Homo sapiens: one gene and its partners. The protein of the gene in region 1 interacts with the protein of each later gene in a biochemical or structural test. Each region holds a gene or a part of one and is shown in the gene's direction. Other genes may lie near its edges. The genes, in order: ZMYND11, ARHGEF18, CRYBG3 and ZBTB38.

What was found.
Region 2: the proteins of ZMYND11 (region 1) and ARHGEF18 interact in a test that uses a peptide from one of them, tested with the Homo sapiens proteins (one large-scale study listed by BioGRID and IntAct).
Region 3: the proteins of ZMYND11 (region 1) and CRYBG3 interact in a surface display test, tested with the Homo sapiens proteins (one large-scale study listed by IntAct).
Region 4: the proteins of ZMYND11 (region 1) and ZBTB38 interact in a surface display test, tested with the Homo sapiens proteins (one large-scale study listed by IntAct).

What each region holds. Positions count from the first base shown.
Region 1 is NC_000010.11:252,796-256,220, forward strand, and holds the end of ZMYND11 (zinc finger MYND domain-containing protein 11), read left to right. Parts: 3' UTR 1-1,842; downstream 1,843-3,425. UniProt on the Homo sapiens protein: Chromatin reader that specifically recognizes and binds histone H3.3 trimethylated at 'Lys-36' (H3.3K36me3) and regulates RNA polymerase II elongation. Does not bind other histone H3 subtypes (H3.1 or H3.2).
Region 2 is NC_000019.10:7,347,128-7,352,171, forward strand, and holds the start of ARHGEF18 (rho guanine nucleotide exchange factor 18), read left to right. Parts: upstream 1-1,809; 5' UTR 1,810-2,114; intron 2,115-2,753; exon of another isoform or gene 2,754-2,916; intron 2,917-5,044. UniProt on the Homo sapiens protein: Acts as a guanine nucleotide exchange factor (GEF) for RhoA GTPases. Its activation induces formation of actin stress fibers. Also acts as a GEF for RAC1, inducing production of reactive oxygen species (ROS). Does not act as a GEF for CDC42.
Region 3 is NC_000003.12:97,872,928-97,877,510, forward strand, and holds part of CRYBG3 (very large A-kinase anchor protein), read left to right. Parts: coding exon 1-4,583.
Region 4 is NC_000003.12:141,371,149-141,375,731, forward strand, and holds part of ZBTB38 (zinc finger and BTB domain-containing protein 38), read left to right. Parts: intron 1-4,583. UniProt on the Homo sapiens protein: Transcriptional regulator with bimodal DNA-binding specificity. Binds with a higher affinity to methylated CpG dinucleotides in the consensus sequence 5'-CGCG-3' but can also bind to E-box elements (5'-CACGTG-3').

The sequences.
Region 1 (3,425 bases):
AATACAAGTGAGTTTAACAAAGAAACATTTAGAATAGATCTGAATGTAAGAACTACAGAACTGTTTCAGAAATAAAACATACTACCTTGATGTGACATTTTTTTCTTAACCTTGTTGAGCTGGTTTTGTTCAGCTTAATTTACTGTTCAAAGGCATTATCTGTTGGTCACACCAGTGGGTATATGATTGAATTTAGGGAACAGGGTTGACACAGCAGGGCTAGTCCTGCATATTTTTTCTTAAATATTTCCCAATTGTGTTTTTCATTATTTCTTTTCAATATATAACTTTTATAACAAATTATTAGCTTTGATCTTGTAGTTTAAAATTGCAGGGAACTGGGGTAATCTTTTACTGAGCTGGATCTTAGAGAAAATGAATATTTAAATTTTAAAGTTTGCACATTTCATCTTTGTCCTAACATGAGTGCTTGTAACAAAATAAACAACAAAAACAAAGCCAAAAACTACCTTTATCCATATGTGAAATTATAGATGAGGCATACGAATTTGTTTAATGCTTCCCTTCCCTTCCCACATATCATCTCACTGCCTATTATCTGGTGTCACCTCATGTATCGTAAGTTAATACTAAAAGAAGAGAAAGCACTTAAGTTTCACAGAAGCCGTTATGTTTGTAGTAATGGGTCATTGCCTACTAATGAACTCCATCACTGTACACAGAATGAAGAATAATGCATGTTAATTTTCTTGTATTAAAGATGCCGTGATTTGTAAAAAGTCTGTATTTTGCGGAATGTCTGGATTAAGAAGCATTACCAATAGGAATGGATCGATAGTTGAATAATGATTTTTTATACATAGATATATAAAATACAGCCAGGAAAACTTAAATTACTTTTCTTTTAAAATATCTCACAATTTATGTGGTATTTTTAAAGACTGATCTTAGACCAAGTCAAATTCCCATTTATCATTTAGTTATTTTTTGAGGTTAGAGAATAATTTGTACATATTTATTTAGACCTTTGATATTTATTAAAGCAATTACTCACAATGGAAGTGAAAGAATCAGGAGAAAAGCCTTTTAAAAAGTATTCTCCAGGTTTGTCAGGGTCACTCTAAAGATAAAAATGTAACTAAGTCTTCTGTGAAATATCATCCATCTAATCTTGATGCTGTTGCAGATGGTGGTGACACAAGTTAATTGACAAACTACTGCCAAATGGTGCACAATATTTTGTAAAAAGTACCCAGTAGCCCCATTTCATACAATGTACCTAAATTATGCAGTAACTTGGCATCATCGTTCCCTCCTTGTTGCTGTGTAATTAGTCAGTGTTGCCACAGTGTGTGGCGCTGATGGAGATGTCAGAACCGAGAACACTTAACCTTCTTTGATTGTTTTTCAAGTTTTAAGACTTCGATCCACCCCTATGAGAGCAAGTAATTGTGGAAATATTTTTGGTGTAAAATCATTCCAGAGTATGTAATATTTAACTGATAGCTGCATGAAAGTGAGATTCGTGTTACTTTGGCTTTTCTGTCTCTGTTGACACGGTTGCACATTTCCAAGTTACTACAGCGTGAAAACTGTGTGTTTAAAAAAAAACAAAATTAAAAAAAGAGATTGTGGCCTGGTTTTGTAAAAGTTTTAGGTAAAATTACAATTGATTGTTTTAGGAATCATTATTAAAAATTTTCTGCAAATCATAAAGCTATATCGAGGTGTTGAGCTTAGCCACTATGCACATTGTAATTATTCATTGTGGCTGTCCAGTTCTATGATGCATTCTGGCATTTTGTAAGCTGCTCTGACTAGCAATATATAGATTCATTTAATGTGTTAACATTGGTTAATAAATGTATTTAAAAAAAACTAGCTTTAGTAATTTGTTTATTTAGTGTAGTCCCCTATACCCAACCAAATACTACCGTCGCTAAATGTTGATCACATACTGTGGGTCACTCTTTAGTGACTGCTTAACTTTATATAAAATCAGTGTGTTAAACATCATTTGTTCACTTAAACGTATAAATTGAATTTACTTTCACCAGATCTCAAAAAGACCATACATGATATAATAAGGAGAGGATGATTATTATATCAGCTGCATATCAATTATTGCAAATCAGCCTGAAAAACAGATACACAACTCAGAATGGAATAGATTCTTAATTGGAGGCCAGCTGAGGCTAACCCTCTGCTGTTTTCATCTACTTCTTGGTATGGTAGTTGTGGGTAGTTGACCAGCCCCAGGTCTTAGTGCCAACATTAACCCAGCCTTAGTCGGTACTCTGGTTTTCATCATTCATGCCATCATTCATCATTCATGTGATAGACGTATCACAACTGGGATCAGATGGTTTAGGTCTGAATATTAAAGTCCCAGTTCCTGTAGGATTGTAAAGTTTCCAACAGTAGTAGTAGTATCATTCTATTCACCCTCATTTTGTCTTTGTTCTTCTAGATATATTTTCCTAAGCAACAGGCTTACTGGTCCTCAAAAATGAGGTGTCGGCCAGGCGTGGTGGCTCATGCCTGTAATCCCAGCACTTTGGGAGACCAAGGTGGGTGGATCACCTGAAGTCAGGAGTTCGAGACCAGCCTGGCCAACATGGTGAAACCCTGTCTGTACAAAAATACAAAAAAAATTAGCCGGGCATGAAGGCAGGTGCCTGTAATCCCAGCTACTTGGGAGGCTGAGGCGGGAGAATCTCTTGAACCTGGGAGGCAGAGGTTGCAGTGAGCCGAGATCACCCGATTGCACTCCAGCCTGGCTGGGCAACACAGCGAGACTCCATCTCAAAAAAAAAAAAAGTGTCACTTGTTATTTTATGAAATGCCAACTCTGATTCTAGACCTTAATTATTAGAATTGTGTTCTAAAAGTCTTTTCAATAAAAAAATTCCAACTGACAAATATGAAACCCATATCTATAATACATGAGTATCACTAAAAATTTCAGTCATTGATGACAGCAAAGTGAAAGAAGGCCTCTAGGAGGGTGTATGGAGTGAGTGAAGTGACAAGGTTGCTTCTGTAATTGGGGGCGACCAAATTGAAGTAGTGAAGCAAGTGGCTTAGAGAATAAAAAGCATTTTGCCACATTCCAATATTAAAAGAAAATAAAACTAGAAATAGGATACTTGTGTGAAAGTGATCTTTTCATAAACAAGAAGGAAAAGTGTGCAACTGGAGGAAAGTAATAGCTTTGGTCGGGCTACTCAAGACAAGATAGGTGTAAACAGGGAAGTTTAAAAAGATGTAATAACTTGCTCAGATTTACCCAGTAGGTCAGTCTCAAGCTCAGTTCTGTTTGATTGTAAAACCCATTTTCTTAACTCTTACGCTAGGCTGAATATATGGATAGAAAATTATTTGACAAACATTTGAAATTGAAGTCATCAAGTTCAATACATCTGGAATCAAACCCATCACCTTCCCCTGCCTCACTCCACTTC
Region 2 (5,044 bases), on another chromosome or scaffold:
GCTCACACCTGTAACCCCAGCACTTCCGGAGGCTGAGGTGGGCGAATCCTCTGAGGTCCGGAGTTCGAGACCAGCCTGGCCAACATAGTGAAATCCCGTCTCTACTAAAAATACAAAAATTAGCCTGGTGTGGTGGGGGTCACCTATAATCCCAGCTACCTGGGAGGCTGAGGCAGGAGAATCACTTGAACCCAGGAGGCAGAGGTTGCAGTGAGCTGAGATTGCACCACTGCACTCCAGCCCGGGCAACAGAGCAAGACTCCATCTCAAAAAAAAAAAAAAAAAAAAAAAAAAAAAAAAAAGGAAAAGGAAAAAAAGCATAGATTATGGAAAATGCAGCAAAAATAATGTTAAAGTGATTAATTTAAATGTGGTAAAATAGGCATAACGTAAAATTTACCATTTTAACTTTCTTTAAAAAAAATGGGATTTCACTCTGTCACCCAGGCTGGAGTACGGTGGCACAATTATAGGTCACTGCAGCTTTGAACACCTGGGCTCAAGTGAGCCTCCCCGCCTCAGCCTCCGGAGCGGCTGGGACTGCAGGCAGGCACCACCAAATGTGGCGAAGTTTTAAATTTTTTGTAGAGTACTCACTCCAGTGACAGGCTGAAGCCAGCCCAAGAGCCAAGTTTAGTGGAGCATCATGGCTCATGCCTGTAATCCCAGCACTTTGGGAGGCCAAGGCGGGTGGACTGCTTGAGCCCAGGAGTTTGAGACCAGCCTGGGAAACATAATAAAATCCCTGTCTCTACAAAAAAAAAAAATTAACTTAGGCTGGGCGCCATGTCTCGTGCCTCTAATCCCAGCACTTTGGGAGGCCAAGGTGGGAGGATTGCTTGAGCCCAGGAGTTCGAGACCAGCCTGGGCAATATGGTGAGACCCTGTCTGTACTAAAAATACAAACCAAAAAAAAATAGCCAGGCGTGGTGATGTGTGCCTGTGGTCCCAGCTACTCAGGAGGCGGAGGTGGGAGGATCACTTGAGCCCAGGGGATGGAGGTTGCAATGAACCAAAATCACCCCCACTGCACTCCAGCCTGGATGACAGAGTGAGAGCCTGTCTCAAAAGAAAAATTATATATAAAAAATTATATATAAATTATATATAAGTCTATATATAATCCATATATAATTATATATAAAGTATATATAAATTATACATAAATTATCTGTAAACAAAAAACTTAGCCAGGCATGGTGGCATGTGCCTGTAATCCCAACTACTCAGGAGGCTGAAGCAGAAGGATCACTTGAGCCCAAGAGATTGAGGCTGCAGTGAGCTATGATTTTTCCACTGCACTCCAGACTGGATGACAGAATGAGACCCTATCTCTAAAAATAAAATAAACAGTTTTTTGTTGTTGTTGTTGTTGTTTTCTAAAAAAAGCCAAATCTGAGCATTTCCTATCAACTCCACACTCGGTGACATCACACTGGTAGGTGAAATCGGCCATGCTGGGGGTATTTACACCAGGAGAATTGGCAATGGCTACAAATCGGAGAGGTGGTTGTTAAACGTTACCAGCACACCATGTTGTTCCGCCAGCTTCCAGGTACCCATGTAACAATGTAGCCACGTGTGTTTCTGTCTCTCTGTGTGTACCCACCATGCTGGTGTGTGTCTGGGTGCCTGAGTCTCTACGGATACACATGACCTGCACGTCCCTATATGTTGCTGTCTATACACCCATGTGCCTGGGTGAGGCCCCCACACCCTGTTCCTCTTCAGCAGTTGGTTCCACAGGAAGCTGCTGGGGTGGGGGTTGAGGACGCTGGGCCTCCCTCCAGCTCCCCACCCCTCCTCCTCAAGACACCTGCATGCGCAGGGCTGAGGGGTGGGAGCAGGGCTCTCTGCCTCCAGAACCCCCATCCTCTGGGCTCTTTTTAGGCCCCTAGATTGGCCTGCAGCTGGGAGCAGAGTGGCAAGCATGCAGGCAGGCAGTTGAGAAAGAGGAAGTCGAGGTGCTATTGGGTCATTCTGTGGTTATCCCAGGCTCTACCCAGCCAGCGGTTCCCTTGGGCCAGCTCGAAACGCTGGCCGTAGGTCATGGGAGCTGCAGGAGCTGTTAGCCAGGCTAGGTGCCTGCAGGTTGAAGAACTGAGCTCTATCTGGTAAGTACTTATCCTGGGAAGTGGAGAGAGATGGACCCATCGGGACAGAGTGGCAGTGGGGTCTGGGAAGTCTAGGGGGACAGCGAGCAGACATACATCACTGTTTCTCTCCCCCTTGCAGTCAACTTGCTTCCTGAGTGGGTGGGGGAAGCTGTTTGACCCTTGCGTTCATTGTGCAGAGATCTGTGGTCATAAGAGGTCACCCCAGGGGACGGGGATCCTTGAGGGGCTGCTAGGTAAGAAAGGAGGGTGGAGGCCGGGCGCGGTGGCTCACACCTGTAATCCTAGCACTTTGGGAGGCTGAGGAGGGCGGATCACTTGAGGTCAAGAGTTGGAGACCAGCCCGGCCAACATGGTGAAACCCCGTCTCTACTAAAAATACAAAAATTAGCCAGGCGTGGTGGCGGGCAGCTGTAATCTCAGCTACTCGGGAGGCTGAGGCAGGAGAATGGCTTGAACCCGGGAGGTAGAGGTTGAAGTGAGCCTCTCAGTCTCAAAACAAAGAAAAGAAAAAGAAAAGCAAAGAAAGGACGATAGAGCTCCTTGTAGCCAAGGCCCTCCTGCGTGGAGACAGGAGACAGAGAATGAATGGGGGAGCTGGGGCAAAGGCTCAGGTGCCCTTTGCATCTTAAACTGCAGATTCCGGGCCCCCCAAGAACCTCCCTGTTGCAGATTCTGAATCCACTGTCAAAACAAACTCACACTTAAGGCTGATGGCTGACAACCAGCCCTGAGAAGGGTCTTGTCCTGATCTGAAATCATCCAGAGAGCACATCCCTCCACCCAGGCAGCCTTCCTCCAGGTGAGGGTTCTCCCCCTTGGGAGACATCCCCTGTCTCCTCTCGTGGCCCCTTCTTAGGGGGACCTCCTGCACCACCGCCTGCCTGGGACTGGGAGGGGTGGGGGAGGAAGGCTGCGGTTTCTGCTGGGCACACCCAGTCTGTTGTTTCCTGCCAGCCCCCAATGCTGCAGGGCAGGCTTCAGGCACCCTGAGGTCTAGGAAGGTGGCCCCAGAACCAGGAGGGAGTGAATTGAGCTAGAGTGGACAGCTGGGGCCAGAGAGGATGGAGCTAGGAAGTGACGCTGGGGGCTGATGCTCCAAGGCCAGGTCACCTGCAGTTCTGAGAAAAGAACATGACAACCAAAGGAGGTCAGGAAAGGGTTGCCCTCATAATCAGCCACATTTCAACTCCCTTGCTGTGACTGGGAGTCACTCTGGGAGGGCTGCTTGGTAGAGGCAGCCTTTTCATTATGCCTTGAAGAACCAGTAGATGGCAACTGCAAACACGTCGGTGCTTCTGGTCTGGGCTGTCTCCCATGCCTCCCTGGGCATCCCCTAGCCCATGACAAAGGGATGGGCATATGTTGATGCTCGATACTGTTGTAGATGACATGGTGACTGTGTTGGACAGCTGGGCGTTCAAATCCCAGTTCCCTGGCCTCTATGTGGCCTTGGGCAAATGACTTAACTGCTCTGAGCTTTCGTTTGCTCATCTGTTAAAAGGCTGTTGAGTTTTTTGGGGTGGGTGTGTGTGTGTGTGTGTGTGTGTGTGTGTGTGTGTGTGTGTGTGTGTGTGTTGGAGATAGAATCTTGCTCTATCGCCCAGGCTGGAGTACATTGGTGCAATCTCAGCTCACTGCAACCTCCGCCTCTCGGGTTTAAGCAATTCTCCTGCCTCAGCCTCCCAAGTAGCTGGGATTACAGGCACACGCCTCCATGCCCAGCTAATTTTTGTATTTTTAGTAGAGACAGGGTTTCACCATATTGGTTAGGCTGGTCTTGAACTCCTGACCTCAGGTGATCTGCCTGCCTTGGCCTCCCAAAGTGCTGGGATTACAGGCATGAACCACCTCGCTCAGCCTTTATGAAGTTTGGTCTGTGAGATCTTAGTGCAGTGTCTGGCACGTAATAGATCAGAAAACATTGTCAGCCTCACCTATGCCTTCATACTGACCTTGTCCCCAGGCCTTCCTTCCTGAGCAGTCCCACCATCTTCTGAAATGTTCTGGGTCATACCCATGGTGGATCTCAATCTGTAAGCAAGTCTGCTAGAGTGGACTTCTTTTGTTTGTTTGTTTGTTTGTTTGTTTGTTTGTTTTGAGATGGAGTCTTGTTCTATTGCCCAGGCTGGAGTGCAGTGGCACGATCTCGGCTCACTGCAAGCTCCACCTCCCGGGTTCACGCCATTCTCCTGCCTCAGCCTCCCAAGTAGCTGGGACTACAGGCGCCCGCCACCATGCCCGGCTAATTTTATGTATTTTTAATAGAGACGGGGTTTCACCGTGTTAGCCAGGATGGTCTTGATCTCCTGACCTTGTGATCCCCCCACCTCAGCCTCCCAAAGTGCTGGGATTACAGGCATGACCCACTGTGCCCAGCTAGAGTGGACTTCTTAAGGATCCCATCCAGCCATCCCTGTATCATATGCTACTGTATTTTCTCTCTGCCTCTCTCTCTCTCTCTTTTTTTTTTTTTTTTCTGAGACAGAGTTGCCCAGGCTGGAGTGCAGTGGCACAGTCTCAGCTCACTGCAACCTCCACCTCCTGGGTTCAAGCAGTTCTCCTGCCTCAGCCTCCTGAGTAGCTGGGATTATAAATGCATACCACCACACCTGGCTAATTTTAGTAGTTTTAGTAGAGACAGGGTTTCACCATGTTACCCAGGCTGGTCTTGAATTCCTGACCTCAGGTGATCCACCTGCCTTGGCCTCCCAAAGTGCTGGGATTACAGATGTAAGCCACTGCACCTGGCCTGTTGTATTTTTAATTCTAGCATCTTTATCTCCTGTAGGGCTGTTGCTATTGTCTGTGTTTCTTCTTGTTTTTTGGTCATGAGGTTCTGTCTTCTAGTATGCCTGGTAGTCTGATTAAATGCCAGGCCTTGTTTGTGAAAAACTATAGGGATAATTTGTGTCTCTTTATGGTGTCAT
Region 3 (4,583 bases), on another chromosome or scaffold:
TCCTCATATTAGAATGAATAAAAAAGACCTGGCCTCTTTAAATTACATCAGTGAATCAGCAGTTGTAGCAAGCTTAGGAAATGAAAATGCACCTGAGTTGAAATTTGAACTTAATAGAAGTCACATTTCAGAAACTCCTCTTGACTCTGAGAGTCCTCAACAAGCTGAAGTATCACCTGATGCTAAAACATCTCTTAGCCTTGACTGTAAAAAACTAAATTTCAGTATTTCACCTCCTACCTTTGTTTCTGGAGTTGGGATGCTGAGCAAGTTGGATATTCCTGATTTAATGAATGAGGGTTCTCCTGTGCCCATTGAAACTGGGAATGTCAACATTGTTGGTATTTCCTATCAGCCTAGGAAGTGTAAAGAAGAAAATGTGAAAAACCATGTTGAGGCTGCAGGCAGGAAGAGTCCTCCTCCTTCCTTTTGCCTTGAATATACATCTGCAATTTTTGAATTCAAAGAAGTTCTTTCTAATAGTGAAAAATGCCAGGTTCTTCCAGGTTCTGAAGCCAGTGGCCCTCACTTAACTGGGTTGGAGCTATTGAGCTTTGACTCTGGAAACCTCTCTAAGGATTGCAGTTCCATTTTATCTCAAGACCCTAATAGAGTAGAGTTAGTGTCTTCAAACACTAAAGCAAATATGAGCATAATAGAGAAGTCTGATTCTCTTTCCTTGGAAGCCAAAACTGCTAACATTGTATCAAAAGCTGAAATTGATGGTCAGAACAATGTTCTTGTGGAGTCACATTCTGGAAGAGGAAAAACTATATCCTTGTCCAAGGTATCTCTTTCAAAAGTGGAGCCCAGAAACATTTCTCAGGATAAAATGTCTTCTTTTCCATTGAAAATTACCCATGTTCCAGAAAAGCCTATTTTGTCAGAATTAACCTTTCTAGAAGTTGAACAGGGCAAACGTTTTCAATCAATTAATCATAATGAGATAGGAGAGAAATGTTCAGATGCTGGCCTTAAAGAGAATTGCCAAGCTGAGCTTTCTCCTGCTGCCTCCAAATATGAAGATAAGCCAGAACCAGAGGTAGATGCCTTAGGCTCTCCTCCTGCTCTTCTTAAAAGTAATATATCTTGGATTTTACCACCTATTCATGATGAAAAAATCAGTAGGCAAATGGCGCAGAATTGTGAAGCTCACACTTGTGTGTTTCATCAATCTTTGGATATTTGTGGGACTAAAAAGATTTCTGGTCACTCAGAAATGGCGGAACTCAGCTTAACTAATATTTCCCCTAAATTCCAAGAAACTGGCAGCATGAAAGTAAATTCACCTTTTCTGGATTCTGATTCCAGTTTGGAAAAAAATTCTTCTGCATCTGAGGACTCAAGCTTCCTTAAAGTACCTTCTGTGCTGAAATTGGAAAAGAAATCCTCATCTTACAGAAAGAAAGAGAACATCCATTTTTTAAATGGTGGTATTGATAGTGTGTCATCTTCCTCTAGTTACCCTGAAGAAGTTAGCATGATAGTAAATTCACATAAGCCCCAAAATAATTTGGATTCTATACAAGTTACCAAAGATCTCACACATGAAGGTACCTCTGTAACTAACCTGTTGTACCCTACTACCTCTTATTTGGAATTTGAAACGTCTGTCTCAATTGGGACAGAAGTAACCCCATTTCAGGAACATTTTGGGATTTATACTGGGAAGATATCCATTGATTTCCCAACTGCTGCCCAATTTGACAATCTCGTGGAAGCAGAGACTGGAGCAGTTGCTGGGCCTGCAGCGTCAGTTAACAGCTCAGGCCAACAGTGTTCTGAAGCCTCTGCTGAGCACATAGAAGCCAGGAGAAGAGCACATGACCAACTTTTGGACCTCAAAAGTAGTTTACTCAAAAAGGCCGATACATTGATTGGTGAGATTTTTAATTCTGTCAGGGAAGAACTAAAATTCAAACACACAGTGAGTACCTGCCAGGAGCATATAGCCATAGAAGGTATAATGAATCTGGGTACCCTGAAAGAAGACATCTCTGAGAAAAACCCATCAGAAGTGACACTAACAGAAATACAACAGACAGAGGGTTTGGAAGAGCAAGGCATGGAAAACATGTCAGAAGTCAAAGAGAAGCCCTGTGTTTCACCAACAGTTGGTGAGAAGAATCTTCTTGTTGATCCTAATAGTATGAATGTATCTTGTTTGTTAGAAGATAAAGCTAGGGAATTAGTCAATGAGATTATTTATGTAGCCCAAGAAAAATTGAGAAATGATACTTTTGAAGATACTGAGGATACTTGGGATTCTGAACTTCAGGCTAATACTTCAAAAATTCTGAACAGTGATAGTGTTAAGCCACATGATGTAGTTAGAGAGTTCTTGGTTTCAGAACAGCCAGTAAATCAAAGCACACAAATTAGTGAAAATAAAGTATTAAATGAATTCTTCTCCCTAAGTAACTTAGCTAGTGGCACAGAGTCAATTAAGGGAGGAGAAATTGTTCTCTACCAAAAATCCCTATTTTCTGGAAATGGATCTGGACTGTCTGATAGTATAAATTTGCAGGAATCAGATACGGTTTTACTAGCTGAAGACATGTCACATAAACGGTTAGATGATAGGGTAAAAACACATTTATTTCGCAGTGAGGACTGTAATGAGACAATGGAAATAGAGAATGTGGATAATAACAAAACTGAGACAGAGGACAGAAGAACTCTTGTATTAAATTTCAAATGGCCTCCACTTGTGAATGATGACATCCATGCACCTGGTACATCTAAAAGCAGTTTGTCTGATAGCCTTGTATGTATATCTGAAAAAAACTTGCCAGGACACAGTAAAAACACACCTCTTGCAATGTCAGATGTAGGGAAAGTACACAAGAAGGATAATGAAATAAATATAGGGAAAATTGAACTTATACCTTCCATGTTAGAAACAGGGAAAACAAACAAAAAGGATGCTGAATTGAATATTCTGAAATATGAGGCAGTCCCTCCTATGATAGAAATGGGAAGAATACATAAAATGGATGCTGAATTGAATGTCACGAAAACTGAGCCAAAAGCTAATGTTTTTAAAATGGGAGAAGTATACCAAATGGATGCCGAGAGCTGTATTGAAAAAACTGAGGGATCAGCTGTCATTTTAGGAATGGAAAAAGCTTATAAGATGAAGGATACTGAAGGGGATATTGGCAAAATTGAGGTGATACCTATGATGCCAGAAGTGAAAAATATCCACCAAAAGGATGCTGAAGGGGATATTGTAAAGACTGAGATGACACCTGTTACAGTAGACATGGAAAATATTTACCAAACGCATGCTGAAGGGGATATTGGCAAGACTGGGACGATAGCCTTGTCAGAAGTGGAAAATATCCACCAAAAAGGTGGTGAAGGGATTAGTGAAAAGGCTGAAGTGATACCCGTTACATTAGCAATGGAAAATACTTACCAAAAGGATGCTGAAGGGGATATTGGAAAGGCTGAAGTGATGCCTGTGAGGTTAGAAATGGAAAATACTTACCCAAAGGATACTGAAAGAGACGGTGGCAAAACTGAGGTGATGCCCCTTGCATTAGAGGTAGTAAATACTTACCAAAAAAATGCCAAAGGTTTTACCGGGAACACTGAAGGGTCTGTGTTGAAAATGGAAGCTACTTACCGAAAGACTGCTGAAGAGGTCATTAAGAATACTGAAATAGTACCGTGTGTGTTAAAAGTGAAGGAAGCACACGAGACAGCACCTGCCCCCTTAGAAATGGAAAAAGCATGCAAGAGAGATGTTAAAGAGACTATTGGAGCAACTGTGTCCACACCCTCTGTGATAGAAATGGAAAAAATATCCCCAGAAGATCGTGGTGAGAATATTGGGAAACACAAAGTGTTACCCGCAGTGGTAGACATTGAGAAAATACATGGAACAGGACTAGAATTGACCACTAAACAAGGGGAGGCCATGCTTCCTGCATTTGAAAGTAAAACACCACAAGAGTATGCTGAAGGGAGTGTTGAAGAAACAAAGGAAGAGCCTACAGAAATAAAGGAAGGCTTGATAGCACATGAAAATAGACTTCCTACATATTTCAGGGGATATGAATCCCCTACATTAAGTAAGGATTATGAGGGCTACCCAGCCCCAGCAATGCCAGATTTTCAACCTGGGGATACCACAGTAAGACTAGACAAAAGAATGTCTCTTACTGCAATATATGACAAGAGGAGAGAGACAGATTATAGTGACAAAGGATATAATTTAGCTTTTGTTTCTCAAGATGAACAAGAAAATTCTTCCTTTACTATATTATACGAAGAGCCCCTTCAAGAGGAGGACAAGTATGCTTCCGCAGAAGCAAGACAAACACAGTCTGTCTTGTTTCATGATACGTCCGCTGACAGCATGCCTGTTCTGGCATGTGAAAGGTCTGAGAGTAGAACTGACCTTGTCCATCACTTTGAAAAAGGTACTAAATTAGGTGAGACATTTGATAGTGATAGTTCAGAAATGTTCTTATCAGTGGAGGCCAAAAGGTACAAAATTTATCCTTTAGCATTGTCTCCCATTTATGAGGATGACAGCTCACAGGAGGACATTCTATCTAGTGAGGTTTCACCTG
Region 4 (4,583 bases), on another chromosome or scaffold:
TTCAAGTGATTCTACTGCCTCAGCCTCCTGAGTAGCTGGGACTGCAGGCACGCACCACCACACCCAGCTAATTTTTGTATTTTTAGTAGAGATGGGGTTTCACCATGTTGGCCAGGATGGTCTCCATCTCTTGACCTCGTGATCTGCCGGCCTTGGCCTGCCAAAGTGCTGAGATTACAGACATGAGCCATAGCGCCCAGCCGAGAAACTTTTTTTTTCTTTGAGACAGGGTTTCACTCTGTCACCCAGGCTGGAGTGCAGTGGCACGATCATGGCTCACTGCAGCCTCAACTTCTCAGGCTCAAGCGATCCTCCCAAGTAGCTGAGACTACAGGCATGTGTCACCATGCCTGGCTAATTTTTGTATTTTTTGTAGAAACAAGGTTTCACCATGTTGCCCAGGCTGGTCTTGAACTCCTGGGCTCAAGCAATCCACCACCCACCTTGGCCTCCCAAAGTGCTAGGATAACAGGCATGAGCCACCGGGCCCAGCCGAGAAACATTTAAAAGTAGACTAAAAAGTCTCAGGCTGGGGCTATTAATGCTACCCCAAAAGATGTGATATATATGTCTAGCTTTTTATTTTCAGGAAAAGTTTCAAAACATTTACTGAAATAATAAGTGGTAAAGTTGTAAGCTCTGTTTGGAGAACTTTTAATAAGTTTAACATTTTATGTAACCTTCTAACCATTGTTGATGTTGGTGAAGTATTCCCCTCATTCGTAAATATAAACCATATGATGGGTGCCTTGTGATGCCCCAGACTTAAAGGTGTGAAATAAAAATGAACTCAAGTCTTTGCCTGAGGTGCCTGGTACCTAGTTCTCTAGTTTTGTCAATATCTGACTAAACACTCTGGTTTCTGATTGACTTTTGCCCCTGGACTTGACCTTTCTGGCACCCACATCCACACCCTGAAGAGCATGTATTGTCTGTTGTGTGGGGATACCTGTTACTGGCCAATTTGCCACAGCTTCTCAGATATCTGACAGAGGCTGATGCCTGGCCTACTCTCCTGTTATGGCTGCCTAGCCTCTGCCCAGTCCCCTTACATTAGGATGGAGCTGAGGAGGAATGGAATAGAATAACAAGATGAGTTGCTGCAAAAATACTTCAGCCTCTGAAAGTCTGTCTTTCCAAGTTGTTAGGAACTGAAAGTGTCTATTGATCGGGGAGCTGGCTGGGCTAGTGGTATAAGCTAATGATAAGACCAGGTTGGGCTGGGCATGGTGGCTCATGCCTATAATCCCTGCACTTTGGGAGGCCGAGGCAGGTGGATCACTTGAGGTCAGGAGTTCAAGACCAGCCTGACCAACATGGTGAAACCCCATCTCTACTAAAAAAAAATACAAAATTAGCCGAGCAGGGTGGCGCACACCTATAATCCCAGCTACTTGGGAGGCTGAGGCAGGGGAATTGCTTGAACCTGGGAGGCAGAGGTTGCAGTGAACCGAGATCACACCACAGGACTCCGGCCTGGGCAACAAGAGAGAAACTCCATCTCCAAAAAAAAAAAAAAAGACCAGGTGAATGGGGAATACAGTGCCTGCTAGAAGGGTGCAGTTGAAGGAATAAGTTAAGAATATGTGCCAGATTTCAAAAGCTGGAGCCAAATGGGGATGATGTGTTGCTGGAAGTCCTAGCCTAACAGAGTCTTTCAGGAAGGGCAGAGCCAAAGGTCTCAGTCAACATCAGGGTCCATTCATGTGGGAGAATGGCTAATCACAGCTTGCTAATTTCAACTACCATCTGTTATGACTCCTCAAAGCACTAAGTATGCAGTAGTTGACATATGAATGGTGTTAGGGTTGGGGGAGGGGGCCAGCCTCCTGATTTCTAATTTCTAGCTGCATATTACTACAGGAAGGGGAGTAAGACCACCACATCAGGTACCAGAATTTCACTACTGTCAACACTTTGTGTTTGAAAGAAAGCCATAGATCCCTGTGACCACTGGATGCTGAGTGACCTCACAGACAACATCAGCAAAGCAGGATTGTGTACAAACACACATTTTGTAAATATTTTGATATTTGACATTTCAAAAAAAGCATCAAAGGAGACAGCCTGGGAAAAGTTAGACTTTGTTGAGCTTTCTCAACCTTAATTTTGTATTTTGTTATTTTTTTCTATTTTAATTTCACATGGGAGTAATAATTCAAATTTGAGGCACTATAGTCTTTTCAGAGCTTAGGTCATCTAAAGATCTGAGCCTGGCCTTGTTGAGCCATGATGAGCAGATGTGGACTGAGCACACAGTCTCACACAGGCAGCTCTTACACTAGTTGAGTATTTTAATCCCTGAGGTTTTAGAATTGTCATAGCACAGGTGTGCAAGCTCCTTTCTCCCCATGGGTCAGCATCATGAATGTTCTGTCACTCTCCTTAGAGAGTTTTGCAGAAATACCACATCATATTCACCAAAACTAAGAATTCATAGTAATAGGGCTTTATAATTTCTCACACTGAAATCCCCTAATTTCTTGTCAAGAACCAAGTTGGAAAATACCACACTTCAGGGTTTTGTTTTTAACTCAAGAAGCTTCTGGTTTTCATCAGAACTTTAAAGCTCCCTCCTACCTCCAAAATAGTATTGTTAGAAAATGTAATGCTGAGACTCTGTCAGAATAAGTAGGTGATATATGCAAAATGATATGGGCAACTTAGAAAAGTGCATGTCAAGGTAAACTGCTGATAAAGGCCGGGAGTGGTGGCTCACACCGGAAATCCCAGCACTTTGGGAGGCTGAGGTGCGCAGATTGCTTGAGGCCAGGAGTTCAAGACCAGCCCAGCCAAAATCGTGAAGCCCTGCCTCTACTAAAAATACAAAAATTAGCTGGGCTTGGTGGCACATGCCTGTAATCCCAGCTTCTTGGGAGGCTGAGGTATGAGAATTGGTTGAACCCAGGAGGCGGAGGTTGTGGTGAGCCACGACTGGGCCACTGTACTCCAGCCTAGGCAACAGAGGAAAAAAAAAAAAAAGTGTTGATAAAAAATAATCATCATAATTATGGTCAGTATTGGTGCTTTGACTTTTGATATTGTTATTATCATTATTTTAAAGATTTTTTTGTCTTTCTAAATTGACTTTCATCTGGGAGCCTTAGCATCACTTCTAACTAGCCAAAGCATGTTTGATTGTAGGCCAGACTCCCCATGGAGAGGCTTCTGATCTTATTCACAGGGACATTTAACCTGGGGTTCACTGAAACCTTTGAGGAATGATGGATGAGTCATCTCTCTGCCAAAAGAAGATGATTCCTGGCATTCTATGGGGCTCCCAGTGCATTGGGATAAGGAGGCTTGGAAACTCCTCCACGGAGGCATTGACCTTGGGTAGTGCCTTCCAAGCCAGAGTGGAGAGAGTGGACCCCTCATCTTTGTCCAAAAGAGCATTAGTATAACCCCTCACCCCAACCCCACCCCATTCTCTCCTTTTTAAAAAGAGAGAAGAATATATACAAGAAAAAAATTGGAAAAAATACATCAAAATGTTAAAAATTGTTGAGATGGTATTTTATGTGGTGTTTTGCCCCCATTTAACATTATGTTGTAAACATTTTACCAAATCACTAGATGGTCTTTGAAAACATGATTTTTAATGGCTCTATTTCCATTGCACTGATACATTTTAATGTATCAGTTTTTTGTTGTTGGACATTTTGATTCACTTTAGTGTTCTACTATTTTTAAAGTTTCTAATGCATATTGGTGAATTGGCCCCTAGAAAGGTACGAATGTCTATTTCAAAACCTTGGTCTTTTTTAGTTTCTCACATTAAAATGCATGCTGCTAGGCCCCAGTGGTATTGGAAGCTCTGAGGAGGAGCCTGGGGATATGCATTTTAACCTGCCCTCCCAATTCTTCTGCATTAATGCCTGAGAACTATTGACATGCTGCATTCAGTTCAACAAATATTCAGTTGGCAAACATTTATTAGACAAAAAAAATTAGGAAACTCTGAGCTAGTATGTCTATGCCAGAATTTAACTTAAAGTCTTTTTTTGGCTTCTGATTTTTAGATTTTCCTTTAACTGTAATATGATGTAGTAAAAAGATTATTAGCTAGGGAATCAAGAAACCATATTGTACACATGAAATCACTGAGGCCCATAATGGTTCATTTACTTCCTGGTGGTCACTCAGAGATTTAATGGCAAAGGTTGAACTAGACAAAGGGCCCAGAGTCACCCAACCTTTAGGTAAGAGACAAAAGGCGCCAATGAGAAGATTCACTCCTGAGGCAACGCCCTGCCTCAGCCAAGGAGCTCTTACCTGCCCTCAGATAGGCATGCCCGTACTTCAAGACACTCTTGGGCAGCCTAGACCTAGCAAGGGGCCCACGTGCCCATCTTGGTCACCTAATGGGGCCAGACTGTGGTGTGCCCTGATCCCTGAGGTGGTAGCACTGAAGAAGCTGGACCCAGGAGGACAGAGGGCAGCCGTGCAGGCAGCATCCATGTGATCAGCATCACAAGAGCAGAGTAGGAGGTGGGATCTGGGGTCAGAAACCAAGACAGCGGAGCAGGGTCAGGGCAAGTGCCAGACTAAAATATGTGGGCAAATTTGAGGTCAAGGCAGGG